4 linked regions of the Homo sapiens genome follow. The protein of the gene in region 1 interacts with the protein of each later gene in a pairwise test. Each region holds a gene or a part of one and is shown on either strand. Other genes may lie near its edges. The genes, in order: TTPA, SAR1A, SLC35E3 and CMTM4.

What was found.
Region 2: the proteins of TTPA (region 1) and SAR1A interact in binary tests that used the Homo sapiens proteins (3 or more experiments, as listed by UniProt).
Region 3: the proteins of TTPA (region 1) and SLC35E3 interact in binary tests that used the Homo sapiens proteins (3 or more experiments, as listed by UniProt).
Region 4: the proteins of TTPA (region 1) and CMTM4 interact in binary tests that used the Homo sapiens proteins (3 or more experiments, as listed by UniProt).

The regions. Positions count from the first base shown.
Region 1 is NC_000008.11:63,083,049-63,090,371, forward strand, and holds the start of TTPA (alpha-tocopherol transfer protein), read right to left. Parts: upstream 3,006-7,323; 5' UTR 2,974-3,005; coding exon 2,770-2,973; intron 1-2,769.
Region 2 is NC_000010.11:70,153,515-70,160,541, forward strand, and holds part of SAR1A (small COPII coat GTPase SAR1A), read right to left. Parts: intron 4,354-7,027; coding exon 4,250-4,353; intron 456-4,249; coding exon 324-455; intron 1-323. UniProt on the Homo sapiens protein: Small GTPase that cycles between an active GTP-bound and an inactive GDP-bound state and mainly functions in vesicle-mediated endoplasmic reticulum (ER) to Golgi transport.
Region 3 is NC_000012.12:68,756,171-68,763,197, reverse strand, and holds part of SLC35E3 (solute carrier family 35 member E3), read right to left. Parts: intron 4,042-7,027; coding exon 3,959-4,041; intron 3,159-3,958; coding exon of another isoform or gene 3,113-3,158; exon of another isoform or gene 2,807-3,112; intron 1-2,806. UniProt on the Homo sapiens protein: Putative transporter.
Region 4 is NC_000016.10:66,686,731-66,693,757, reverse strand, and holds part of CMTM4 (CKLF-like MARVEL transmembrane domain-containing protein 4), read left to right. Parts: intron 1-7,027. UniProt on the Homo sapiens protein: Acts as a backup for CMTM6 to regulate plasma membrane expression of PD-L1/CD274, an immune inhibitory ligand critical for immune tolerance to self and antitumor immunity. May protect PD-L1/CD274 from being polyubiquitinated and targeted for degradation.

The sequences.
Region 1 (7,323 bases):
TTAGTTCAACCACTGTGGAAGACAGTGTGGTGATTCCTCAAGGATCTAGAACTAGAAATACCATTTGACCCAGCAATCCCATTACTGGGTATATACCCAAAGGATTATAAATCATGCTGCTATAAAGACACATGCACACGTATGTTTACTGCGGCACTATTCACAATAGCAAAGACTTGGAACCAACCCAAATGTCCATCAATGATAGACTGGATTAAGAAAATGTGGCACATATACACCATGTAATACTATGCAGCCATAAAGAAGGATGAGTTCATGTCCTTTGCAGGGACGTGGACGAAGCTGGAAACCATCATTCTCAGCAACTATCACAAAGACAGAAAACCAAACACTGCATGTTCTCACTCAGAGGTGGGAATTGAACAATGAGAACACTTGGACACACAGTGGGGAACATCGCACACTGGGGCCTGTTGGAGGGTGGTGAGCTGGGGGAGGGATAGCATTAGGAGAAATACCTAATGTAAATGACGAGTTGATGGGTGCAGCAAACCAACATGGCACATGTATATCTATGTATCAAACCTGCACATTGTGCACATGTACCCTAAAACTTAAAGTATAATAAAAAAAAAAAAGAACAAAAGCAAAAACAGGCCATTTTCAGTTAACTGGAAAGAAATTTTGAAATTTTACATGTATATAAAAGATTATTAATCACACTTAAATAAATGCATATTATAATAACAATGAAAAAGTATATCTCTTTTAGCAGGTTTATACACAAATTGTGTTTGATAATACAGTGTGGGTTATGGAGGAAAAGGCAAAATCATGTAATATCAGAGTGATGAGTTATAGAGTTTTTTTTCTTTTTTTTCTTTTTTTTTTTTGAGACAGGGCCTCACTCTGTTGTCCAGGCTGTGGTGCAGTAGCACAATCTCGGCTCTCTGCAACCTCCACCTCCTGGGCTCAAGCGATTCTCCCACTTCAGCCTCCCAAGTAGCTGGGATTACATGCACGTGCCACCACACCTGGCTAATTTTTGTTATTTTTTGTAGAGATGAGGTTTCACCATGTTGCACAGGCTGTTCGTGAGCTCCTGAGCTCAATTGATCCACCATCCTCAGCCTCCCAAAGTGCTGGGATTGCAGGCCTGAGCTACTGCGACCTTTGGAAGGCACTGAAAACTCTTTGGAAGACAGTTTGTTATATTACTCAACACTGAAAAATACACATCTAATTTCATCCAGCAATTTCACCGGTTGAATTTATCCTGTAAATTTATATTCCTATTTATGCACAAAGTATGAGGACATGAGGAATGCCCAGTCAGTGATGGAAGAAACCACAGCCGCCTTGTTGACTGCATCTTGTGTACTACTAGGCAAATTGTAGAGTCCAAAAAATAATTGTTGAATGAAGGAATGAACAGCAATAAGCCCTAAGTCCAATAACAGGTTAGATACATTTTAATATAGTCTAATATATCCATCCAGTAGAATAACAGCAGCCCAATAAAGAGTAAGATGGATGTATACCAGTTGATATGGGATGCTCCTAGTTCAAAGACAGGTAAGAAAGGCAAAATAGAAATCACACACAAACATGCTTGTGCAACCTCTGGCTGTTTAAAAAGATAAATGAGTAACACTAACCAGCCTCTGGGTATGTGACTGACAAACTAAGGTTTGAGGTAGGGAGCTTTTTTCCTTTAGAAAGTTACTGTTAGAAACTTACTTTTCACGTTTTAGGATTTTGTGTTACCTAGATTATTTTTACCATAATTTTACTTAAGTTAAAAACAACCTCAGGCTGCTCTGTCTCTATGGAGTAGCCATTCTTTTGTTTCTTTACATTCTTAATAAAGTTGCTTTCACTCTAAAACAAACAAGAGAAACCCTCAAAAACCTCATACTGAGACACACTGGAATTTTGTACTATAATATCTTTCCTGCTAGGCAGCTGTGTGACACTGAACAAGCCACTTAGAGAAAGGGCTAGATCTGGTCGAACTGCTGAATGCTTACTGTGTGCCAGGCACTGTGCTGGGCACAGCTTGTTTTGTTAAACTGGTTAATGTTCAATCTTCACAAAAAATCAATGAGACAGGCATTTCCATCATTATTTAACAGATAAGGACACCAAACCTAAAGTGACAGAACTCAAGGTCGCATCCCTCTTTCTGATTCCTATCTTTCCATCACCTTTTCTTTCAGTGAGCTGTAACATACCAGAAACCAAAAGAACTGCCCGACTACAACCCAGACTCGAACTATACTGGGTTGCTTTACTGTCTTGACACTTAAGTGTTACTAGTAATAATACTATGTTGCTACTATATGGCTTCAGAACTTCAGTTTTACCAGCAATTTCATTTTCCCCGCTATACGTAGTTAATCTGGTCACGTGTGATAAGTCTGAGCTTCCAACTTGTAAGCTGTTACTTTGTTTGTACCACAGGCTTTCCTGCAGGGAGAGGAAGGCATGTCCCCCAAACTTTGTAGGTTCAGGAGACTCATCTAGCGCAGGAGTTCTCCATGCTTGAGATCAAATGGGCCATTATCCCATGACTCCAACACTTTCTAGCTTTGTCGTTTCCATGACCCAGAGAAACTGGAGGACCAGCTCTGGATTCTCGGAACATCTACAGCCTCAGCGCCCACGCCGGGTGGTTAGGGGCGCGTTACCCGCCAGGGTCCTGCCTGCACCCTGGGCTTCGGCAGGGGTCAGATATCCGGGGTCGTGGGGCGGGGGACGGGGCGGGTGAGGTGCGCACTGCCGAGCGCCCTGGGCACGCACGCTTACCCGCCAGGCCAGGTCCAGATCGAAATCCCGGGCGCGCAGGAACCGCAGCAGGAAGGAGTCGGTGAGCGGCAGCGGCGCGAGCGGGACGCCAGCTTCCCGGGCCCGGCGCCGCAGCGCCGCCAGGCCCGGCTGCAGCAACGGAGAGTGGTCCGGTAGCGCGTTGAGCTGCGGCCCCGCCGAGGGCTGGGATCGCGCCTCTGCCATGCCCGCCGCCGCTGCTGCGGCCGCAGCTACCCGGGCACCCGGGAAAAGCGCGCGCCCCGCGCCACCCTCGGCCCCGCCTCTGCGGCCGCTGCCCGTCGCACAACCACTCTCCAGCCTGGCAGGGCGGTCTCCGGCCTCGCACGCCGGACCCGCGGCGAGCAGAGCTGCCTCTTAAAGGAAACCGCACAGTGTCCCCACGGGTGCTAGCCACCTGTTTAGCAGCTTTAGTTAGGGACCCCAGCTTTTTCCCAGCGAGGGAAGCCACTGATGTTCAAACACCGAGGAAACGATGTCAAAGTTAGTTGGGATGATTTTTACGATCTACTAGAGAATCTTTTTTTTTTTCTTTTTCCTTCCTCCCTCTCTCTTCCTTCCATTCTTCCTTCCTTCTTGCAATCTTGGAGCTGAAAGGAGCCTTAGAACGAGCCTTTAATGGCCAGTGGCCGACGCGCTACTGAGCCCTCTCCCTTCTCCTTCCATCAGATTCCAGACTGATGACCCCTCGCCTCGCACTGGATTACAGCATGCATTCTAAAACACGCATTCCATAATGCCTCCTTGGCAGCCTCACCGCTTTTCTCCCTTCCTCCCGATTCGGGAAAACTTCTCTAATCCTGGCACCGGCCCCTGTTACTGACACAAATAAATGACTAGCGCGTACCCTGACCCCCTTCCGCACCAATATTTATATATTTATATTTTTTATTAATTTATTATTTACTTATTTAGAGACAGGGTCTCACTGTCGCCCAGGCTGGAGTGCAGCAGTCTGATCAAGGCTCACAGCAGCCTCCAACTCCTGGGCTCAAGTGATCCTCCCGCCTGGGCCTCCCAAAGTTTTGGGATTACAGGCCTGAGCCACCATGACTGGCCTCCATATATTTTTAGCACCATAAACTTACTCTGTTACACTCCACCATCACTAAACTTTAAGCATGTCTACTCGCTAAAATGGACAGTCCAAAGCTGTTATATGATTGAGTCTATGAAAGCCTGGGGAATGAAGATGAAGTAGGGAAATAATGTGGAAACTTGAAAGGCTGTTCCGTTGTCCTTTTCTTGATTTCTCCATATTGGAACTAGCCTAGAATTGTTTTGTCTTCCCAAGAGAGAATCCATGAAACCGTTTCTTATTAAATGCATACTATGCTCCAGGTAAATGCTGGACTTGGAGAAAAACAAATTAAACCAAATCTTTGCTTTTAAGGAGCTCAGAGGGTGGAGAAAGAGACTGCCATTTCATTCATTAAAGAAAGAGTGATTGGGTGGTTACTGTGTCCAGACCCTATTCTAGGTACTGAGGGCACTCCTGTGAACAAAATAGACACAACTCTTGCTTTCAAGGAGTTTTCATTCTTTTGGGGGAGGGAATGGATGATTAACAAGATAAATCAGTAAATAATGTGATATAAGAAATGGCAGTCAATGCTATGGGGAAACGAAGCCAAAAAGTGGGCAGCACCTACAGTGACGTTGGAATAAACACCTGAGTGAGGTGAGCGAGCTTGGCCCAGGGGTATCTGGGACTGGAAGGCTGTGGGCTTTGGCTTCTGTTCTGAGGGAGATGGGAAGCATTAGAGTAAATAATCCCAATCCAACCAGAAAGCAACTATACCTGGGGACAAAAGATTCCTAGCTTTGGCTTATACTCAGAGTGAGACGGAAGCTATTTGAGTAAAGGTTTACAAGTCAATGTGACAAGTGTACAAAACAGGTTTGGAGACCATGGTGTGAGAACACAGAGGAACACTACCGACACTGCCTAAGAGATTTGGAAAGGCCTCACAAAGGGGCTGTTTGCACGGCCTTAGTGAATGCACTGGGAATGTTTGCCAACCAAAGGAGAGAGGGGGAAGGAAGAAAGTACTAGTCAAGAGGGGCTGACTGTGCAAGGCCTTTCTGGAAGCTCCGAAGAATTAAAAGACAATGGTAGCCTTTCTTCTCTAGAAGTTTTAAGTGTCTAAAAATAATAAGAGAGGGCCTATAGAGCATGTTTTCCTCCCTTCCAAAAGATTTTTTTCAATGCTCTCTCCTACTTGTTTTTAGTAATTAGCATCCACTTTTTTGAAATTGGGCAGAAAGTTCAGTGAGAGATCGGGGACATTATCTAGCTATAGCCATTGAAGGTGCAAAGAGAATGTCTCTTCCCCTCTGTAAGTTCCATGATTTTAGTCTATAAAACAAACTGACAGTAGACAGACGAATGGGAAAAAGGCACATGCGTATATTAACGTGTGTAAACAAGGGAGTCATACACAAAGTATGAGACTTAAAGAAGGGGCCAGATAATGAAGTTTTATACCATCCTGAGGTTACAGAAAGAATAGGGGCTTGGGGCTTCTCGAGGAGAGATGGAGACACGGGTTATGGGAAAGTGAGGGGGAAAGCATGGCATAGAGCCTACCTAGTTTTGCAGATAAAATCCTCCAGGGAGGAGCTCTCAGAAAGAATAAGACAGGAGCCTGTAGTAACAGTTTCCCTAGTGGACCTTTAAGGTGTCCAACTTTTAGTCCCTTTTTCCCAAAAGTTAATCTTTCCTAGATCCAGAGAAGGGGAGCCTCAGAGAAAGCTTGGATGTTTATTTCACCTATATGGATTTTCTCTACAGATACAAATCTCCCCTATAAAAGACAGCTTTTCAGGGCTATTCTTGTGCTGGCAGTCCCTCTGAATAGCCATCTCAAAATAGACCAAAGGAGTATATTGTGAATGGCATATTTTTGGTTTCCTTCATTGTAGTATCCCTTTTTTTTTTTTGAGACGGAGTCTTGCTCTATTGCCAGGCTGGAGTGAAGTGATGCAATCTCAGTTCACTGCAACCTCCGCCTCCAGGGTTCAATAGATTCTCCTACTTCAGCCTCCTGAGTAGCTGGGACCACAGTCGCACACTGCCATGCCTAGCTAATTTTTGTATTTTTAGTAGAGATGGGGTTTTACCATGTTGGCCAGGATGGTCTCTATCTCTTGACTTCGTGATCAGCCCGCCTCAGCCTCCCAAAGTGCTGGGATTTCAGGTGTCAGCCACTGTGCCTGGCCTAGTGTCCCTTTTTAGAACTGATAAATCTGTTATTTCTGCATCTGTGAAACTCTTCTAAGAAATCAATAAGATTGACTGATTGATTGCCATTAAACTCAGTGAAAATGAAGCCAACATGGAGCCCAGATGGTGGTGAGAGGTGGCTCCTAAATACCTAAGAGGTGGCAGAGGGAGCGGTGGATATCTATAACTCAAGTGGGAAGCAATGCCAATGTCAGCAGTTAGCCCAGTGGTAGAAAAGATTGCACGACTATGGGAAAGAGAGAAAAAAGTTGAAGAATTGATGGGGCAGACATAAAAGGTGAGAATTTTACACTACAACTTGATTACTTTGGGGTTAAATTATACAGATCGTGCTTCTGTCTTTCAACAATGTTATCTTGGATTTATATAAAAATTTTAGAATTCTTGGCACAAGCTTTCAAGAGCTGTTACTCAATTTTTGTTTTGAAATGTTTTCAAATTTTCTATGCTCATATTTTACTCTGGTGAGCTCTTGTGTTTACCGAAAATGCATCCAGGCCTCTGGCTGAAAGAGTCCAAAGGGATTTCTGGAACTAATGGTATGAGGAAATAAAAGCAAAACTGGAATGAAAAGTTAGTTGACTTTTGTAGCTACCTTACAATTTACTCTGAAATTATTTAACATTTAGTTATTTATTAGCATAATAATTCATAAGTATACCAATTTATTTTACTTTCAGCTTCACAGAAAAGACAAATATTTTTCACTGTTAAAAGATAACATTTTCAAAAAGAGATAAAATTATGACACTTATACATATATAAAACTGAACAAGTGTTAAAGATTTTATTCAACTGGTAAGGAGGAAAGTAGACACATGTTATTGCAAGTTCAAATAAGTTAAAAAAAAAAGCACACATTTACATGGAGTAAAGGATGTTGAAAGGGATGTGCAAATGGAGGCAAAACTAACTTCTTTCACAGTGAGGGAGAGAGGTCAATCAAAACTCCTCCAGGCAGTTCAGAATTAGCATGTTATTAGACAAGAATTATTTGCCATTGCTATCAGTTATCTACAGTTCACAGAATTGTAAAATAGCTTCGATAGAATGAGAATCAAATAATGCAGGAGGTGCCATCTAGAGTCTATGTAATGCATAATTTTCCATTGAAGCAGAAATATTACCCCACATCACTTGGGAAACTCTATGTAAAATTTATAAAATAATATTTACCACAGAACATTTCAACCATATGTAAAAATAATAGTAATGAATACCAATATACAGTCTGCTTCAGCAATCAATGATATTTTGCCAATCTTGTTTTATCCACCTCCCCTACTTTT
Region 2 (7,027 bases), on another chromosome or scaffold:
AAAAAAATTATTTTCTGGCTAAAAAGGGCTATTTCAAAAGCAATTTCTCAGAATCAAATTTGAAAGATAATCATAAACTCTTAGAAGAGTAAATCTGCCTTTTCTACCATTTCCTTCTTCCTCAAATACCTGATGAATGAATCCCATTTAAAACGTTAAAAAGAACACACTCCTGCCTCTAGTGAGCTTACAAAATACTCACAGTAAAACTAATCCTAAGCCTGTTTAAGCCTTTAAAAGAAAAGGGTAATCTAGATAGCGAAACATCATGTTTTAAAAACTGTTAATGTCCTTTATATGTAACCCAAATATTTTTCTCTTACCTTTCCTGTGGTCTGTCCATAAAGCCCAAATATCTCACGGAGTTTTTCTTCACTGATTGCATCTGTTCTGTCAATTTTGTTACCCAAGATAAGGATTGGCACATTGGATATTGTTTCATCAGTCATTAAAGCCTAAAGATTGAAAAAAAAGAAAAAAAGAAAAAAAAGAATTAAGTGAGGAATCTACAAAAGCCCACCAGATAATGAAAATTCTGACTTCCACTAATCTTTTAAGGCATTAATGTAAAGTGAAAATCTGATCAACTTTATACCTGAGTGATTAAAGATTCACCTTGACATTACATAACACCCATGACATTAAGTAAAAATCTCCTAAGTGCCTCGAAACAGTTGCAACTTTATTCTATTTATTTACAAGGCAGCAGAACTGCCCCAATATTAACTTTTGAGCTAATCTGCTCAGCCACAAACTATCCTCAGGATGTCCCTCAGCAAAGTCCTATAAGAATGAATGCTCTGGCTACAGAGCCTCAAAGATGACTACAGGAATTCCCCAAGTATTCACCAAGTCCCATTGTGTGCGAAGAACTCTCTCAGGCATTGAGAGGAATAAAGTAGGAAGGGTAACTATCTCAGGCACTGAGGATACAAAAGGAAGCACATTCCTGTCCTCAAAAAAATCCTCACTCTATGTTCACATTATGTTTTTTTTCTTTTTTCTTAATCTCAGCTCACTGCAACCTGTGACTTCCAGGTTCAAGCGATTCTCCCACCTCAGCCTCCTGAGTAGCTGGGACTACAGGCATGTGCTACCACGCCTGGCTAATTTTTGTATTTTTTTAGTAGAGATGGAGTTTTACCATGTTGGCCAGGCTGGTCTCAAACTCCTGCCCCTCAAGTAATCTGCCAACCTCAGCATCCCAAAATGCTGGAATTACAGGCATGAGCCACCACGCCCAGCCACATTTATGTTAACAAAGCCAAGTAAGAACACAATATAGTGGATAAGTGTCACAATGAATGGGAACTGAATATTAACATTAAGACAAGTTCAGGGAAATAAAATGGCAATTTTGGGCTTGAGCAAAGTCTTAGAAAAGATCTGGAACCTAAACAGGGCTCTAAAGGAAGGGCAGGGTTTGGATAGGTGTAAAGGAGAAGTAAGAACATAAACAACGGCTTTGCATTAGGACAATAATTCAGGAAGCCACACAGTACTGCATGGCTGGATTCAAGCATTTAGATAGACATGCAGCGACAAAGTAAATGGATGAGAAGAGATGACTCACATTAGGGGCCAGTGTGAGAAGTGAGCTGCAATATATCCTAAAAGACCACAAATCCAGAAGTTAGTGAATAAAATCTTATTTTTCAGTATAATGAATTCACAAATAGTATCTATCTGTGGTGTTCATGTAAGAGATCATGATCTAGCTTAAGGTAGAGCATTCAATGAATACTGCAGGAGGCATTTTGAAGAAAGAATTGAAGAGACCAATGTCTAAATGATTAAAAAAAAAATTTAAAAAAGACAAATGAGTCAAAACTGCCACTGATTTCAAGCCTGGGAATCTAGTTGTCACCAATAGGAAAGCTAGCGGGGAAAGCAGAGTTAAAGAGATAAAGAGGAATGTACTTTGACCATCTGGAATTCCAGGAAATGTTACACAAAATTAGAATAAGAATGTCCTTCATTCATTAAGCAACAACAAAGTACCTAATGTGTCTAATGCTTTGCTAGGTGCAGGGGTTTTGCAAAGAAATAAGACACAGTCCCTATCATGTTAGTTCATAGTCTGATGAGAGAGAACTATAAAAAAATCAATAAAGACAACAGACATTGGTAAGGTGGGAGTCTAACACAGTCTCAGAGGTCAAGGGAGGCTTACCAGAAGCAGTCATATCTGAACTCTGAGGTCTCTTATAGAACATTTTAAAATTTGCCGACAAAGCGAGGGGTTGAGGAGAGGTACAGGTGAAAAAGCCAGGCAGTAGCTACTTGTGCATATTCAAGGATGGCTAAGTTGTTTGTTTGGAATATAGTTCAAGGTAGGCAGTAAAAAGAAACAGAGGGAGGATCATGAATGATCCTATGTGCTATGCAAAAGATTTATAGATTTTATCCTGAAAATGATAGAGAACTATCAAAGGATATTAAGTAGGGCAATTAAGTCTGAGAAAGTTCCTTCTAGCATTATGGTGCATATCAGGGTCATGGTAGGATTTATATTAATTCACAGATTTGTGGACTGCATGTCCAGGTAGGTGGTGGGTGGGAAAGACAAATAGTTCCATTCTAGGAAAACAGAATCAGTAGTAGGAGTTGTCGAGAGTAGGCAGGATTAGGTATGAGATTAGAGCTCAGGAGAGGTCTAGAGGAGAGAAATGCATTTGAGAGTCACTGACATGTAGGTGCCAAATGAAGGGAGTAGATGGGACCAGCCTAGGAGAAAGTACTCTGGAGAACACCAACATTTAAGGACTAACCAGAAGAACTAGTGCTTCTCAAAGAGACAGAAGTATCAGCCAGAGAGGTAGCTCCAAAATCAAGAGTGAAAAGAGGAGTTTAAACAAAGAGAATGGAGACCATGCATGGTGGCTCATGCCTGTAATCCCAGCACCTCATGAGGCCGAGGCAGAGGATCACCTGAAGCCAGGAGACTGAGACAAGCCTGGGCAACATAATGAGACCCTGTCTCTACAAAAACACTTTTTTAAAAAAAATTAGCTGGGTGTGGTGGTGTATGCCTGTAGTCCTAGCTACTTGGGAGGCTGAGGCAGGAATATCGCTTGAGCCCAGAAGTCTGGAGGTTACAGTGAGCCGTGATTGCACCATTGGACTCCAGCCTGGGCCACAGAGGAAGATTCTGTTTAAAAAAAAAAAAAAAAAGCAAGGTAAAGACTGCGTGGCAGGCAATTCTACATGAGGCTGGAGCTATAGATGTGAGAAACATACTTAGAAATAAATTCAAGACAGGTTCAAGTTGCCAGAAACAAGAATGCAAGGAGTTATAAATCAAAGAGAAAGAAGAGATATAGGGTAAAGGAGTAGGGATAACAAAGCCAATAGTATAGAAACCATCAAGCCATGAGAAAATGCAATGTTGACAAAGGAGAAAACTTGAAGTGAGTCCTTAATAGTATCAAAGGATGTATGCAACCAAAACTGAAGACTGAGAACAGACCATGAAGGTCTGGCAAGTCATTCAGTGGGAGGGTGGGTAGGCACAAGCTGAGAATGCAGATTCAAAAATGTAAAGAACTCTAATATCGCTTTTAGGCTTTCACTATGCCAACACTACTTATAAAGAATTACTGTTCATGGGCCAGGCGCGGTGGCTCATGCCTGTAATCCCAGCACTTTGGGAGGCCAAGGCGGGTGGATCATGAGGTCAGGAGATCAAGACCAACCTGACTAACATGGTGAAACTCCGTCGCTACTAAAAATACAAAAAACTAGCCGGGCGTGGTGGCACGTGCCTGTAGTCCCAGCTACTCGGGAGGCTGAAGCAGAAGAATCCCTCGAACCCAGGAGGTGGAGGTTGCAGTAAGCCAAGATTGCGCCACTGCACTCCAACCTGGGCAACAGAGCAAGACTCCGTCAAAAAAAAAAAAAAAAAAAAAAAAAAAACAGAATTACTGTTCATGACACGTGAAACAGAATACTATTAATTATGCTGGGACAACAGGCATAAATGAGGAGTATCCTGAGCAAACTTGGCCATATAATCACTGTATGATAGAAACAACAGTTAATTTATTTAAGTTTGAGCTGAGTTTCCTCAGGACATTGAAAAGCAATGTCTTAGATTTAAAACATTTTCCTCCTGCAACTAGGTCTTTTTGCCAAATGTTAACTGGAATGACTAATTATTGGCACTACTGAGCTATATTCCTTAAAAAAAAATAGAGGCCAAAAAAGAACAAAATATACATTAAAATACACATTAAAGGACAAAACATACATTAAGCTCAACTTTGGATTCCACGAGGCGAGAATGATCTGCACAGTCCACCAGAAAGACAATCCCATTAATTGCTGGGAGATAATTTTTCCAAACGCGACGTGCTAAAAAACAAAGTTTGTAGTTGCATGAGTAAAAAATATACATTGTGAAAATGAATAACCTAATGGTCTATAAAATGGACAAATCTTGGTCGGGTTTCAGTAAGATTAGACTCTATGGATTTCTCCAAGTTCTGGCCAGTATTAATTCAGAACAGAGGATGCAAACTGATGGTCCATGAGCTGAACCTGATTTTTGTAAATTTGAAAATCAGAGTTTCCGCTTTTTTTGAAAAACTGCAACATCTGGCAATCCCATGCCTACTTATCCACGTGACAATTATCAGCAGGAACTAAGCAGTGGCTGCCCCTTCAGATGATGTCTGAACACTTTTGCTTGACAAAATTTCCCTGCTGTCTTACAGTCAGCCAATTTTACTCACTTAAATGACTTGCCTTGCCCCTGGGGCCAAGTCTAGTTTGCAACCTCTGAGTTAAAACATCAGGATACAAATTACTTGTCCATGTAACTTTAGTCCCAGTTAGTTTCTAGCCAACTTGTGTGTAGGCGTCTTGACACATTCCTCTGCTCAGCCCTTAGGGAGACTAGGCCTGACAAGTGGTTCAAGGCCCCAGGCCAGTTATCTCAACCTACCATATTTAACCCAGCATGCCTTATAAATATTACTTGGTTTTTTGCTTGTGACATGAAACGATAAAGGCTGGGAAGCAGTGATTTAATTGTACTATCATTTCTAAGCCATTAATTTCTAGCCCTTGCAATAGAATGAATAACGAACCATCTCTACATCAGTTAATAATGGTTACCTTTAAAGAGTGGAGCTAGGAAAAAGAGGTTGAAGGAACTTTCCATTTTACTTTCCGTAGTTCTATACTGATTTTGTTACATCGAACTTGCTCTCCTTTTATAAGTTAAAATTTTTAAGTTATACAAAAAAAAAAAAAGGAAACCTCCAGATGTACAGTACTTTAGTAACTTTTATAAAATGGTGGCTAGGTTATTATGTAAAAGTGTTTTTGTTAAGTAGATTTTCCTCAGTCAAATAAACAAAACTAATTACATCAATACATTTCCCTTCTTACTTTTAACAAAACCTGAAACCTAAATTTATCACACCAAACAATCTACAATTCCCAGTTCAGGTATATAAAACCATCTGGCGTCTGGTCCTTCTACATTCTCCAGATGGTCTAGGTTCAGTCTTATCTTGCTCTGAATTTAAATTTGTAAGCAGTTACAAATCCTTTTGTGGAAGCAGCAGAAAGGACACCATATACCCATTCTTACCCAAATGAAAAAAATACAAGCTCCTTACAGAAAAAAAGGAAACAAAATCATTTCTAATCCCTCTATCAAAACACACCCCTTGTCAATATTTTGATATTTTCTTCCAGCCTCTTTTCTTTACTGGTATTTTATGTGATTATGATCATAATATACATGATTTTTCAGGGCATAAATATTAAATAAATTAATTAAAATGTAATTATATGTTAATGAAATCACTGACTATAAAATTATTAGGCTTAACAACTAGAAATGACCAATGTTATATTTTACTATACATTTTTTAAAAACTGTATTAGGCTGGGCACAGTGGCTCACGCCCATAATCCCAGCACTTTGGGAGGCTGAGGCAGGTGGATCACCTGAGCTCAGGAGTTGAAGACCAGCCTGGGCAACATGGCGGAAACCCAGTCTCTACAAAAAACAGGTGGGAGGATTGCTTGAGCCCAGGAAGTAGAGGTTGCAGTATGCCAAAATTGTGCCACTGCACTCCAGCCTGGGCAACAGAGCAAGACCCCATCTCAAAAAAAAGAAAAAAACGGTATTAGCTCAACCTAATGTTTCAAAACAAGACTTCTCCACTCAGTGTAATAACAAGTAAGTAAATCTGACAGAATCTCAATAGTTCCTTTTCCCTACTTTCCCAGAATATTTATTCTCACATCTTAAATGTTTTACTCCTATACCTACGGTCTTGTCAAATGTGAACTGAGTGCCCATCAGACAAAGATGACACTCTGTATGTCTCTAAACACCTGATAGGAATCTGGAAACCAAAGACATAGCCTGAGTAGGCAAAAAGCACTTCTGAGGAAAGCAAAAAGGTAGAAGGAAATGTTCCACCAACTGTCTGAAATGGATAGAATATACAAAATATCAACTTGTATCAGAGTAATCACACATAGTCACTGTATTACTTTTGCAACTTTTGACAAGTCTGAAATTACTTATAAATATTTAATTTCCTACATACTTTCACTCCATTGAATAAAGGATGCAAAAATGACTTCATAACTAGATATATGATACCGTATACCTGGTCAAGATGAAAAAAATGGTATAAAAGAGATTATCAGGACAACTGACCAAAAAAAAAAGGAAATACAGAGTGGATAAAAATAAAACTTCCTGGATTTGATAACTATTATGATTATATACAAGGAAATATCTTTGTTCTTAGAAAATGGCACTAAAGTATTAAAGAGTAAAGGGGCATGATATGCTCACCAACACTTCATTAAAAACAAGCATTAATATGTATTATATAAAGAAGAGGCACTAAAGTATTAAAGAGTAAAGGGGCATGATATGCTCACAAACAGTTCATAAAAAATAAGCATTAATATGTATTATGTAGGGAGGAGGAGACTAACAAATTTGAGCAAAAGGTATAGAAGAAAATATACTGGCTTAGGGCAAGCCTAGTTA
Region 3 (7,027 bases), on another chromosome or scaffold:
ATTGTAAGGATTAAATAAGTTAATATACACAAAGCTTCTAGCATATAGTAAGCACCATATGTGCTAGCTATAATAACATTACCAACAGCAGTACTTATGTATCATAAACACCTGCTTGGTGCTTGACACATTCTCTCAAATACAACCACCCAACATCATAGATCGTACTTCCTCCACTTCATACATTTCATAAGTGATCAGAGTGAGACCCTGAGAGTTCCCACACTAGTCAGGCCCACAGAGAGTGGCAGAGCTCAGTGTTCACACCTGGACCTGTCTGACCTCCAAGCCCACCTAAGCAGCCTGGAGGTTCCCGCTGGGCAGCAGCAGTGCCTCAGGAGAGCACAGGCTGCGTCACCAGGGGCATATGGTGGCTTGATCCCATGAAGGTGACTTCCTGAGACACAGAGGATCTTCCCAAGGTTGTTGGCAATAGTCATAATGTTTTATTTTCAATTATGAGCTATCTTCATGTGCACTGGCTCTAACACTTTAAATTTCTTTACTCCTCAGCTTCTCTTTTAAGTATATTTATACGAGAAGGAAGTCAAATTTAAAGAAACTATTTATGAATCCTTTTGTAAAAGCAACAACAAAAGAGCAGTCTACATGTGGTATTTCCAGTTCTGCACTTTACTCCAGGCAGGCTGTCACCCCAACCCCAACCCACTTTACTCCAGGCAGAATGTTCTGGTCAAACCCAGTGCCCTCCACCTCACTCAGTCCCTCAATGGTGACCAGTCTCCTTGAACTTGGCCTGCCAGCGGCATCTGACACAGACACCGACCCCGCCTCCTCCTCCTTCCTCTGGTTCTGTGCCAGTCTCCTCCTTCCTTCCACCTCTGACTGCTCCTTCTCATCCTCCACCTAGTTTCTCATCTCTCTGAATTCCAAATACTGGACTCAAACCCAACACTCAGTCTTTGGACTTATTTTCTTCTACTTGTCTGCTTGGTAATCTCAACTAGTCTCATCACTTTAAACCACAGCTTCATACTGCTCACTCCCTGTGATGCCTCCTGCTGAGACGTCACCTTTGAACCCTGACTTGTTTATCCAAAACTGAGCACCTGGCTGGGCACGGTGGCTCACACCTGTAATCCCAGCACTTTGGAAGGCTGAGGTGGGAAGAATGCTTGAGCCCAACAGTTTGAGGTTGCAGTGAACCATGATCGCGCCACTTCACTCCAGCCTGGGTGACAGAGCAAGACCCTGTCTCAAAAACAACAACAACAAAATACTCCCCGAACTGAGCACCTTATCTTCCTCCCCAGCCCCAAACCTCCTTCTGGGTATCCTATCTTAGTTGATGGCAACTCCATTCTACCAGGTGCTCAGGTCAAAAACCATGTAAATCAGCCTTGTTTTCTCTTTCTCCACATCCAACTCGGCAGCAAAACCTGTTGGCTCTTCTTAGAAATATTTCCAGAATCCAATCACTTCTTACTATATCCACTGCTATCATACTGGTAGCCACTATTACTTCTAAATTAGAATATCGTAGCAGTCTCCTGAGTTTCCTGTGCCTCTTTCAGTCCAGTAGTTCTCAACCATGGGTGATTCTGCTTTGTGGGCAATCTTTGGAGGCATTTTTGGTTGTCACAACTGGGCAAAGGGTATGTATGCTACTGGCATCTGGTGGTAGAGCCCAGGCCTGCTGAAAACATCCTACAGTGTACTAAACAGGCCTGCACTAAGAACCGTCTAGCCCAAAAAGTCAACAGCCCAGAGGTTGAGAAATCCTTCTTAAGTCTATTCTCAACACAGGAGTCCTGAGTGATTCTATGATTTATTTTATTTTAAAAAACTTTTTGTAGAGACAGGGTCTTACTATGTTGCCCAGACTGGTCTCGAACTCCTGGGCTCAAGGGATCCTCCTGTCTTGGCCTTCCAAAGTGTTGGAATGACAGGTGTGCCATTGTGCCCGGCCCACTGAGTGCTTCTATTAGAATGTATGTAAAATCATGTTACTTCTCTGCTCAAAATGCTAATGGCTTCCCATCTTACTCAGTTTAATAGTCCTTACATAAACGCCCTACTCAATTCAGTTCTGTGTTACTTCTCAGCCTACCACATTCCCTCCTTTGCTCAACCTGCTCTAACCACACAGGCTTCCTTGGTTTTTTTACGGCCTCGCACCTGCTGTTGCCTCTGCCTGGAATGTTCTTTCCTCCTGATCTGCATGGAGCAACTGCATTTCCTTCAGGTCTTTACTCAAATGTCGTCTTCCCACTGATGCCTTCCTGACTAGCCCTGCCTAGAACTTCAATGCTGTCTATGACATTTCACATTCTCTTCCCCGCTTTATTTTTACTCCTTGGCAGTTAACACTATCCAACACTGTATATAAATATTTAATTGTTTTCTATTTCTAGTCTTCCTCACCAGAATTCAAGCCTGTGAGAGCAAAGACTTTTGTCTATGTGGTTCATTACTGTATCCCCTGTGCCTGGCACACAGTAGATGTTCAGTATATAAATATTTTTATATCAATGACTGGTTTAGTGGGTATTCAATAAATACTTATTGAATAAATTAATGTTTTAAATCAGAGCACATATTTGGATGCCTTGATTGGGTAGTATGATGTACAAATTTGGGGACTAGACTGCATGGGTTCAAATCTGGACATCCCATTTGTCAGCTGTGTGCCTTAAGTGAGTTGGTTAACCTCTCTGTGCCTCTATTTTTTCTATAAACAAAAATGACAGACTTTACCTCACAGAGCTGCTGTGAGAATTAAATGGACTAATACATACAAAATGTTTCTAACAGTGTCTGACACAAAATAAATATTTGTTAAGTATTGGTTTTCTAAAAAACTTATCGTTGTTGTTTTTTATTGATAGTTGGCAAATATCCTACTTGTTTACTTCCTGGGGAAATTCATTTGTTGCATTTGCCTAAGGGTGGGGGCAGAGTGAAATGTGAAGAGAAACAGGATGACAAGCAGAATGGTACAAATGGACAGTTGAATTTGACCTTTAACATATAACTTCATTTCTATTTTTTCTTTTTTTGGTAGAGATAGGTTCTCCCTATGTTGCCCAGGCTGGTCTCGAACTCTTGGGCTCAAGCGATCCTCCTGCCTCGGCCTCCCACAGTGTTGGAATTACAGGCGTGAGCCATGGCACCCGGCCAATGACTTCATTTCTTGACTTGAAATAATATTGAGAAAAACAGGCACACCCATATCCAAATAAGTACAAACACATACTCCATAGCCAGATGCCAGTGGCCTGAAATTATCTTTTGTTATTTGTTAACCATTCCTCTACTTTGTTACTAGAAATACCTGAAAATTGTTTGAAAATCCAAACCTCCACCTCACTATTCATTCAAAAAATATTTAATCTCACTGTCTGTAAGAAATGGTACTCTGAGTTAATTTTTGTAAGGGAAAAGGTCACCTATTACATAAGAAAATTCAGAAACATTCATGACACAAAAAGCTAACCCACTTCCTCAGTTCATATTTCTTTTTTTTTTTTTTTAAGACAGAGTCTTGCTCTGTTGCCCAGGCTGGAGTACAGTGGCACAATCTCAGCTCACTGTAACCTCCGACTCCCCAGTTCAAGCAATTCTTGTGCCTCAGCCTCCTGAGTAGCTGGGATTACAGGCGTGCACCACCTTACCCAGCTAATTTATATATTTTTTGTAGAGACGGGGTTTCACCATGTTATCCAGGCTGGTCTTGAACTCCTGGCCTTAAGCGATTCACCCGCCTCGGCCTCCTGAAGTGTTGGGATTACAGGTGTGAGCCACCACACTTGCCCCTTCAGTTCATATTTCTTTAAAATCCTTTAGTGGGTAAAGATACAGTAAAAGGCTAAAAATAACTCTCTCTACTCAATTTAGGCCATGCAATAGTTAGTGTGAGATTCAAATAAGGTAATGAATGTAAAAGTTTTGGAAAATATAAAAGACGATGCATTTCTAAGTTATATGAAAAGGATACGTGACAGGTGAAGTGTTCCCAATGATCCAATAAATTGATAAGTTCACCATGAAAGCTATTACTCCAGATAGCAGCACCATAAGCTACAAATAAACCAAAAGAACCATTAATGCAAAGCACTGCAATCATAATCATCAAGCAAAGATACATTTCATTCGGCATTTTAAAAAATTCAAATATCAACCATTAATAAATAAGATTAGAAAGAGAGGGCCGGGCGCGGTGGCTCACGCCTGTAATCCCAGCACTTTGGGAGGCCAAGGCGGGCGGATCACGAGGTCAGGAGATCGAGACCATGGTGAAACCCCATCTCTACTAAAAATATAAAAAATTTGCTGGGCGCAGTGGCGGGCGCCTGTAGTCCCAGCTACTTGGGAGGCTGAGGCAGGAGAATGGCATGAACCTGGAAGGTGGAGCTTGCAGTGAGCCGAGATCACGCCACTGCACTCCAGCCTGGGCGACAGAGTAAGACTCCATCTCAAAAAAAAAAAAAAAAAAAAAAAAAAAAAAGAAAGAGAATTTGGGGTTGGGAGACAGTAAGAATTGCAAGTAAAAAAGCAGAATGAACCGTGTTTAGAAAAAACGTAATTTTTTCCACAAGAATCAACGAAAAATACTGCAATAACATCCTTTCTGTGATTGTGAATTTCCAGGTTCATTTTTCTTATTAATCTAAAGAAAAAGTATACATATGCATTATTATTATTGTACATCAGACAATAAAGAAAAGCAAAAAGAATATAAGGAATTCTTATAATCCCAACCACCCACACATTAACATCTCGGCATACCTCCTTCGAGATCTTTTTCTTTTTTTTTTGAGACGGAGTTTCACTCTGTCACCCAGGCTGGAGTGCAGTGGCACGATCTGGGCTCACTGCAACCTCCACCCTCCAGATTCAAATGATTCTCCTTCCTCATTCTCCTGAGTAGCTGGGACTACAGGCGCCTGCCACTGCGCCCGGCTAATTTTTTGTATTTTTAGTAGAGATGGGTTTCACCATCTTGGCCAGGCTGGTCTTGAACTCCTGACCTCATGATCCACCCACCTCGGCCTCCCAAAGTGCTGGGATTACAGGCGTGAGCCACTGCACCCGGCCGAGATCTTTTTCTATTAAATTGCTCATTTTTATTCTTTTTTTTTTTTTGAGATGGAGTCTCATTCTGTCGCCTAGTCTAGAGTGCAGTGGTGCAATCTTGACTCACTGCAACTTCTGCCTCCCAGGTTCAAGTGATTCTTCTGCCTCAGCCTCCCCAGTAGCTGGGATTACAGGCCCATGCCACCACACCCACCTAATTTTTTTTGAATTTTTTGGTAGAGATGGGGTTTCACCATGTTGGCCAGGCTGGTCTCGAACTCCTGACCTCAGGTGATCTGCACCCCTTGGCCTCCCAAAGTGCTGGGATTACAGGCCTGAGCCACTGCACCTGGCCTCATTTTTATTCTTATTTAACTCAATAAGCATTCATTGGATATCTACAAAGTTAGGCCAGGCCTTCTGAGGAACGCAGTATGTACAAAGTTCCTGCCCTCAAAGAGCTTAGAAACTACTTGAGGACATAATAAAAATCATGATGATCACTGCTTACACTTACATAACACTTATTATGCACCAATAATTGTTCTGTTTTACATGTATTCACTTATTTAATTTTCACATACATCCACAAAGTAGTTGTAAAAATATTATTCCTTTTTATAGATAACTTGGCTGGGCACAGGGGGACAAATGGGTTGGACCACTATATACACATACAAAGTTCTGTTCAAATCTATCCCATAATTTTATCCAAAAAGTTATAGAATCATTTTGTTTCTGAATTTAGATAAAATGATATTCATGATATAAACTATTAAGAAGTTTAAGTTCCAAAGAAAACTTAAACTTGATACTTGGCACATCATTAAAAACACAATTACTCTACTTTGTTAGGGTCTTTGTTACGGACTTTGAAGAATATAAAGAAGCTAGTTCCACGTTGAAGAGGAGTGGTAAGAGTGGGCATCCTTGTCTTGTTCCAGTTCTCAGAGGGAATGCTTTCAACTTTTCCCCATTCAGTATTATGTTGGCTGAGGGTCTGTCATAGACGGCTTTTATTAAATTAAGGTATGTCCTTTGTATGCCGATTTTGCCAAGGGTTTTAATCATAAAGCGATGCTGAATTTTGTCAAATGCTCTTTCTGCATCTATTGAGATGATCATGCCATTATTTATTTATTTATTTATTTGGAGTCTCACTCTGTCGCCCAGGCTGGAGTGCAGTGGCACGATCTCGGCTCACTGCAAGCTCCGCCTCGCGGGTTCACGCCATTCTCCCGCCTCAGCGTCCCAAGTAGCTGAGACTACAGGCACCAGCCACCACGCCCAGCTAATTTTGTTTTTGTATTTTTAGTAGAGACGGGGTTTCACCGTGTTAGCCAGGATGGTCTCGGCTAGTCTCAATCTCCTGACTTCGTGATCCGCCCGCCCTGACCTCCCAAATTGCTGGGATTACAGGGGTGAGCCACTGCGCCTGGCCGATCATGTGATTTTTGTTTTTAATTCTGTTTACATAGTGTATCACATTTATTGACTTTTGTATGTTAAACCATCCCCACATCCCTGGTATGAAACCCACTTGATCATGGTGGATTATCTTTTTGATACGTCATTAGATTCAGTTAGCTAGTATTTTGTTAGGGATTTTAGCATCTATGTTCATCAAGGATATTGGTCTTTAGTTTTCTTTTTTGGTTGTGTCCTTTCCTGGTTTTGGTATTAGGGTAATGCTGGCTTCATATGGAAAAAAAAAAAAAAAGTTGAGTTGACACAATCCTCTACTTTGAGTCAAGGATGCCTCCTAGGGACATTAAGGAATGAAGATGACTTTCCTTCACACTAAATGGCCTCAGCCTGCTGTGGTCTTGGTTTCTTTGCCTTTTTTTTTTTTTTTTTTTAATGGCTTTTCTGCTGCTGTCCTCATTTTAAAACCTGTTAGAAGGCTACGAAAAAAATCCTCTCTCCTTGTAGTATAAGGTCTCTAGGCTGCAATGGTTTGAAACCAGATAACCAGGATGGCTAGGACTTT
Region 4 (7,027 bases), on another chromosome or scaffold:
TGAGCCACCACGCCTGGCCTAGATTTGTACTTTTCATCCGGAAGAACTTTTGGGCCTAGCCCCCAGAATCTCGCCTAACTCTGTTGTTTGTTAATCTCTAGAACTTAAACTCTGAGAGGTTATATGTGGGTGAGTAAAGGAAAGGGACCTGCTTGAAGGGTATGGCAACTTCAAATGGTTTTGGTGTAGTTGGCTTCCCAGCCTTGATGAAAATCCCACAAAACTCCAAGAAATTGGACTCTAAATTTAAACTGAAAAGAAAATAAGAAGTCATTATGAAGATACTTCTGAGATGTTACAAAACTCAGAATCCATCAAGAAATATGAGTAAGTTCTAACTCTGCGGTTTGGAGAAAAATTTGACTTTTAAAAATCAGGAAGCTGAGGTGGGGGGACTGCTTGAGCCTAGGAGTTCAAGGTCACAGGGAGCTATTATGGTGCCTCGGAGTAGCCACTGTGCTCCAGCTTGGGCAACGTAGCAAGATCCCATGTCTAAAAATAAATTTAGTGGTGTGTATGTTTTTTTTTTCTTTGTGTTAGACTTTTGTTCTTGATGCCCAGGATGGAGTGCAATGGCACCATCTCAGCTAACTGCAATCTCCGCCTCCTGGGTTCAAGCAATTCTCCAGCCTCAGCCTCCCGAGTAGCTGGGATTACTGGCGCCTGCCACCATGCCTGGCTAATTTTTGTATTTTTAGTGGAGACGGGGTTTCGTCATGTTGGCTAGGCTGGTCTCAAACTTCTGACGTTAGGTGATCCACCCGCCTCAGTCTCCCAAAGTGCTGGGATTATAGGCGTGAGCTACTGCGACTGGCCATAAATTTAGTTTTTTTAGATTTTTTTTTTTTTTTGAGATGGAGTCTTGCTCTGTCACCCAGGCTGCAGTGCAGTGGCAAGATCTTGGCTCACTGCAGCCTCCACCTCCCAGGTTCAAGTGATTCTCCTGCCTCAGCCTCCCAGGTAGCTGGGATTACAGGCGCCCACTAGCACGCCCGGCTAAGTTTTCTATTTTTTAGTAGAGATGGGGTTTCCCCATGTTGGCCAGGCTGGTCTTGAACTCCTGACCTCAAGTGATCTGCCCATCTTGGTCTCCCAAAGTGTTGGGGTTACAGGCGTGAGCCCCTGCGTTGGGCTGTAGACTTTTTGGTGGTGTTTTTTGTGGCCTATTGCAACCTGTAGATCCTTGCTATTCCAAGTTTGGCCTTAGGCCAGCAGCATTGCCATCACCTAAGGGCTTGTTAGAAATGCAGAATCAGTGGCCTTACCCCAGAACTTCTGAGTCATCTGCATTTAAACAAGATTCCCCAGGTGATCCACGTGTACATTAAAGTTTGAGACTTACCTTTCTATATCCTTTCAGTGTTAACCTTGCAACAGGCCGGGCTCACGCCTGTAATGCCAGCACTTTGGGAGTCCGAGGTGGCTGGATCACTTGAGGTCAGGAGTTCAAGACTAGCCTGGCCACCATGGTGAAACCACATCTCTACAAAAATACAAAAAATTAGCCAGGCATATAGCGAGTGCCTGTAATCCCAGATACTCCAGAGGCTGAGGCAGGAGAAGCGCTTGAACCTGGGAGGCAGAGGTTGCAGTGAGCTGAGATTGTGCCCTTGCATTCCAGCCTGAGTGACAGAGCAAGACTCCATCTCAAAAAAAAAAACAACAAAACCTCACACAGGTGCTAGCAACCAGCTTTCGATAAATAGTCAACCTTAAAGCTGAGATTTTTCGGTAAAATGAGACTGCCAATACCTCCCTCAAAGGATTAAGAAAATGAAATAATATGTGTAAGTTAGTACCTACCGTATTAGGTATCTAACTGATGTGCAATAAATGTTAGCTGTCATAGTGCTAACAATGCCTGTCTCTAAAGAAACTGTGTGAAAATATCACCAAAAACATAATTATGTGTTTGAATTAAAGATAGTTTAATTCCTTATGATTTAAGTTAAATTGGTATTTTTAATGGAATGTGATTGGATACTAAAGCTAATCTGAAACATTATGAAAAAATTAAACGGTGCAGTTGCATAGATTTTATCTTTTCTTTTTCTTTTTGAGACAAGGTCCTGCTCTGTGCCCAGGCTGGAGTGCAGTGGTACAATCATAGGTTACTGCAGCCTCGACCTCCTGGGCTCAGGTGATCCTTCCACCTCAGCCCTCCAACTAGCTGGGACTACAGGTGTATGCCACTATGCCTAGCTAATTTTTAAATTTTTTGTAGAGATAGGGTCTCCCTGTGTTGCCCAGGTTGGTTTCAAACTCGTGAGCTCAAGCAATCCTTCCTCTTCGGCTTCCCAAAGTGCTGAGATTACAGGCATGAGTCACTTACCTCCGCCTATATCTTTTCAAAATGAAACCTGTACGTATCTCTTAGTTGGGGAGAATGTCTAGTGTGGTTAAACAACTGATTTAAATTATCTTCTTCCTCCTTGTGTGAATTTTTTTTTTAAATGAATAAAGACAGTCTAATGAGACTGTGTTGCCCAGGTTGGTCGCAAACTGGGATTACAGGCGTGAGCCACCGCACCTGATCCACATCCCTTTCTTGAGCCCTTCCCATGCCTAGATGACTTTCTGACAATGTATTTGTATAGGACTTTTTAATAACAAAAGATGGGTAATAGGAATTTTTTTTTTAAGACAGATTTTTGTTCTGTCACTGCAGGCTGGAATGCAGTGGCATGATCATAGCTCACTGTAACCTCGAACTTCTGGGCTCAAGGGAGCCTCCTGCCTCAGCCTCCTGAATAGCCAGGACTACAGGCATGTGCCACTATGCCCTGCTATTTTTTTTTTTATTTTTGTAGAGACGAGGTCTTGCTATGTTGCCTCAAACTAGAGGCTAATCTCGAACTCCTGAGCTCAAGCAATCCTGCTGTTTTGGTCTCCCAAAGTGCTGGGATTACAGGTGTGAGCCACTGCGCCTGGCCTGGAAATGTTTAAATGCAAATTTTAGCTCAGCTGATTTTGATGTCTCTTAATCTCATCGAATCTGGGTTCCTCAGTTGTACAGTATGGGTAGTAATGACTAATTGACCATTTTAGGAATTGTAAGAATTAAGAGGTTAATGTTTGATAGTTGCTTTCTTACGTAACTCAAAAACAAATGTGAGTATTTGCACTTCAGGGGTGGGTAATGGCATCTCTTTTATTTGGTGGAAACCTTGTTAGTTTTTTAAATCTCAAGCCAGTCAGCACAATCCCTGGCTGGTTACTGTTCTCTGGAGGATGTGCAGGGGTGGGGCAGTAATACATTATAGAAATCATATGCAACACAAATATAGCTACATTTACAAAGCTGCAACTTTGAGAAATGACTGGCTGTAGACATAGCACTGAGCTTATCAGCCCCAAATCCCCTCAGTTCTGTTGGAGGGGCTGGTTCAACTGAGGTTCAGCTGGGTTCCTGATTCGTAAGAGCTGGTCAAATGACCAGGCAGACACACAATGACCCTGGTCAAACCGTGAAGGGTTCTGCGTTTTGTTTACTACTGAAGATTCCTTTGTACTTCTGGCTCCCATTTATCCCTGAAGTCATGCATATACAAGCGCATAATGGTAGATGAAGCAGTGGGTTTCTCTATGTTGGATTCTCAGATCCACCATTCTGTGGCTCCTTGTAAAACAGTCCCATTTTCCTTTAGGAAGATTGTTATCTTTAGGAGTTGTCTTCCTGATCAAGGACTTGGAGTCAAATAAATTCTGGCAGAAAAGCAAAGTTATAATTACTCTTAAGTTTTTTTGATGATTAAAAATAGTGAAATTATAATCCACGATCTCAAAAGAAGTTGTTAAATGTAGAGCGTACATGTGTTTTACAAAACCACACAAAGACAGTTCAAGAAAATGATACTACAGACCAATATTCCTTATATGAACACAGACACAGAAATCCTCAACAAAATACCATATAGAAAATAAAACCCAGCATAATGGAGAAAGAATAATACACCAAACCAATTTGATTTATCCCAGGAACAAAAAGGTTGGTGCAGTTTTTGAAAGTAAATGTTATAGGTGTACACCATATTAATAACTTAAAATAACAGGCCAGGCACAGTGGCTTATGTCTGTAGTCCCAGCACTTTGGGAGGCCGAGGCAGGTGGATTGCTTGAGCCCAGGAGTTCAAGACCAGCCTGGGCAACATGGTGAATCCCCTTCTCTACAAAAAATACAAAAATTAGCATGACATGGTTGTGCATGCCTGTAGTCCCAGCTGTAGGCTAAGGTGGGAGAATTGCTTGAGCCCAGGAGGTCAAGGCTGCGGTGAGCCGCGATCGTGCCACTACACTCCAGCCTGGGCAACAGAGTGAGACCGTTTCTCAAAAACAAAACAAAACCCAAAGCCACATGATTCTATCATTTGATGCAGAAAAAAAAAACTTTTGACAAAATTCAGTACTTTTCCATAATAAATGCTGTCAGCAAACTTGGAAGAGAAAGGAACTTCTTCAACCTGAAAAAGGGCATCTACAAAAAATCTACAGCTAACATTATACTGTAATATATAATGTTACAGTGGGGAAAGAATGAATGCTTTCCCCCATGATGGGAAACAGGCAATGATGTTTACTGTTACCACTCATATTCAAGATCATACTGGAAGTCCTAGCCGTTGCAAAAAAATTAATAGGAGACGTACAGATCAGAAATAAATAAAACTGTCCCTATTCGCATATGGCATGATTAGGTAGATAATCACATGGGAATCTATAAAAAACCTCCTAGAACTAATAAGTGAGTTAGCAAGGTTACAGGATATAAGGTCAACACACGATAACCAATAGTATTTTTATATCCTAGCAATAAATCATTGGAAATTAAAACAAAAAAACCAATATCAGTTATAACAGCACTCAAAAGAATGAAATTCTTAGATATAAATCTCACAAAACATGTATAGAATCTGCTCACTGAAAACTACAAAACACTGAAGTAAGAAATCAAAGATGACCAAAATAAGTAGACAGGCATTCTGTGTTCATTAGGATTGGAAAACTCAATATAGTTAAAATATTAGTTCTCCACAAATGATCTATAGGTTTAATACGATCCCAAAATCCTAGCAAGGTTTTTTTGTAGATAGAAGAATGCTGATTCTAAACTTTATATTAGCCAGGCAAAGGGCTAGTGATGGTTTATGGAGGTATGTTCCAGGGAGAGAGAACAATGACATGAAGTCACCCTTGTTTAGGGTAGAATGTGTGTGTGTGTGTGTGTGTGTGTTGAGGGGAGTGTTTCTGAGAGTATGATGGACTTCGTATCTCTTATCGGCCATGAGACTTTTGGCAAGCTACTTGTTCACTCAGGCCACAAGCAGATCTCCTGCAGGTCTCTCACTTGGGGATTGTAAGTTGGGGATAATGGTAGTATTACAGTGCTGGTGAGCCCACCATGCTCCCTAGCTCAGCGTCTCAAGACACCACGTCATCAAAGCCTGTTGGAGGTTGCTATGGTCTGAATGTTGGCATTCCCCCAAAATTCAGATGTTGGAACCTAACACCCAGTGTGATAGTATTAAGAGGTGGAGCCTTTTGGGAAGTAATTAAGTCATGAGGGCTCAGCCCTCATGAATGGGATTAGTGCCCTTTTAAAAGAGTTTGAAGGGAGTGTCCTTGCTCATTCTGCCATGTGAGGACACATAGAAAGTGCCGTCTGTGAAGAATGGGCCCTCACTCAGATACTGAATCTGCTGGCACCTGGATCTTGGAGTTTCCAGCCTCCAGAACTATGAGCAATAAATTTCTATTTATAAATTACCCATTTTGGCCAGGCGCGGTGGCTTACACCTGTAATCCCAGCACTCTGGGAGGCCGAGGCGGGCAGATCACAAGGTCAGGAGATCAAGACCATCCTGGCTAACACGGTGAAACCCGGTCTCAATGAAAAATATAAAAAATTAGCCGGGTGTGGTGGCAGGCGCCTGTAGTCCCAGCTACTCAGGAGGCTGAGGCAGGAGAATAGCGTGAACCCAGGAGGCGGAGCTTGCAGTGAGCCAAGATTGCGCCACTGCACTCCAGCCTGGGCGACAGAGCGAGACTCCGTCTCAAAAAAAAAAAAAAAAAAAAAAATTACCCTTTTTACGGTATTTGGTTATAGCAACCAGAACAGACAACAGACTGATAGTGATACAGAATATCTCTGGAATGATACAAGTTGGGGAGCTGGGTGGCCGAGGGCCAGGGTGTCAGGGAGACATTTTCTGCTGTATAACTGTTTGTACCTTTTGTATTTTATTTTATTTTATTTTATTTTTGAGACGGTCTCGCTATGTTGCCTAGGCTGGCCACAAACTCCTGGGCTCAAGCGATCCTCTTGCCTTCAGCTCCCAAAGTCCAAGGTTTACAGGCATGAGCCACTGCTCCCAGCCCTTGAATTTTGTACCACATGCAAGTACCTTCTATTCAAAAATTACTAAAATAGTAGATGTTACTAGCTTTACCTTAGTATAGCCTTAAAGCTCATATACTGACTGTAATCTTTAACTTTTCATGACTTTCTTTGTAATTTGGAGGCCCTTGGGAAGAATGATTTAGATAATACAGACCACTTGGACAAACTTGAAGCTTAAATTGTTTTAAAATGCACTTTTCTGTAAAAAAAAAAAAAAAAAAAGCATTCTGCACAATAGTGGGTGCTTAATAAATTTGTTGATGCTAATGGAAAACTTCTTCCATTTGAAAGGAATTTACCCTCATTTGTTAGTGAAAATGTTGTAACATTAAAGAAAATTAGAAATTAGAAAAATAATCATCGTATTATGACAGACTCAAATGAAAAGGACTTGGAAATTTTTTCCTTTCCAAAGGCTACATATGATCCCCTGTGGCAAAGTCTGGTGATTATGTTTTCTAGTTTTTTTGCTATTAGGAAGATGCGTCAATAAATGTCCTCATGAGTGTAGCCTGGATTCTTCTTTTGAATTATTATTTTTGGTTAAATTTCAAGGAGTGCTTTTACTACATCAAAGGACAAGACCACCACATTTCTGAACATTTAAAAAAAAAATACAGACTTGGTTGA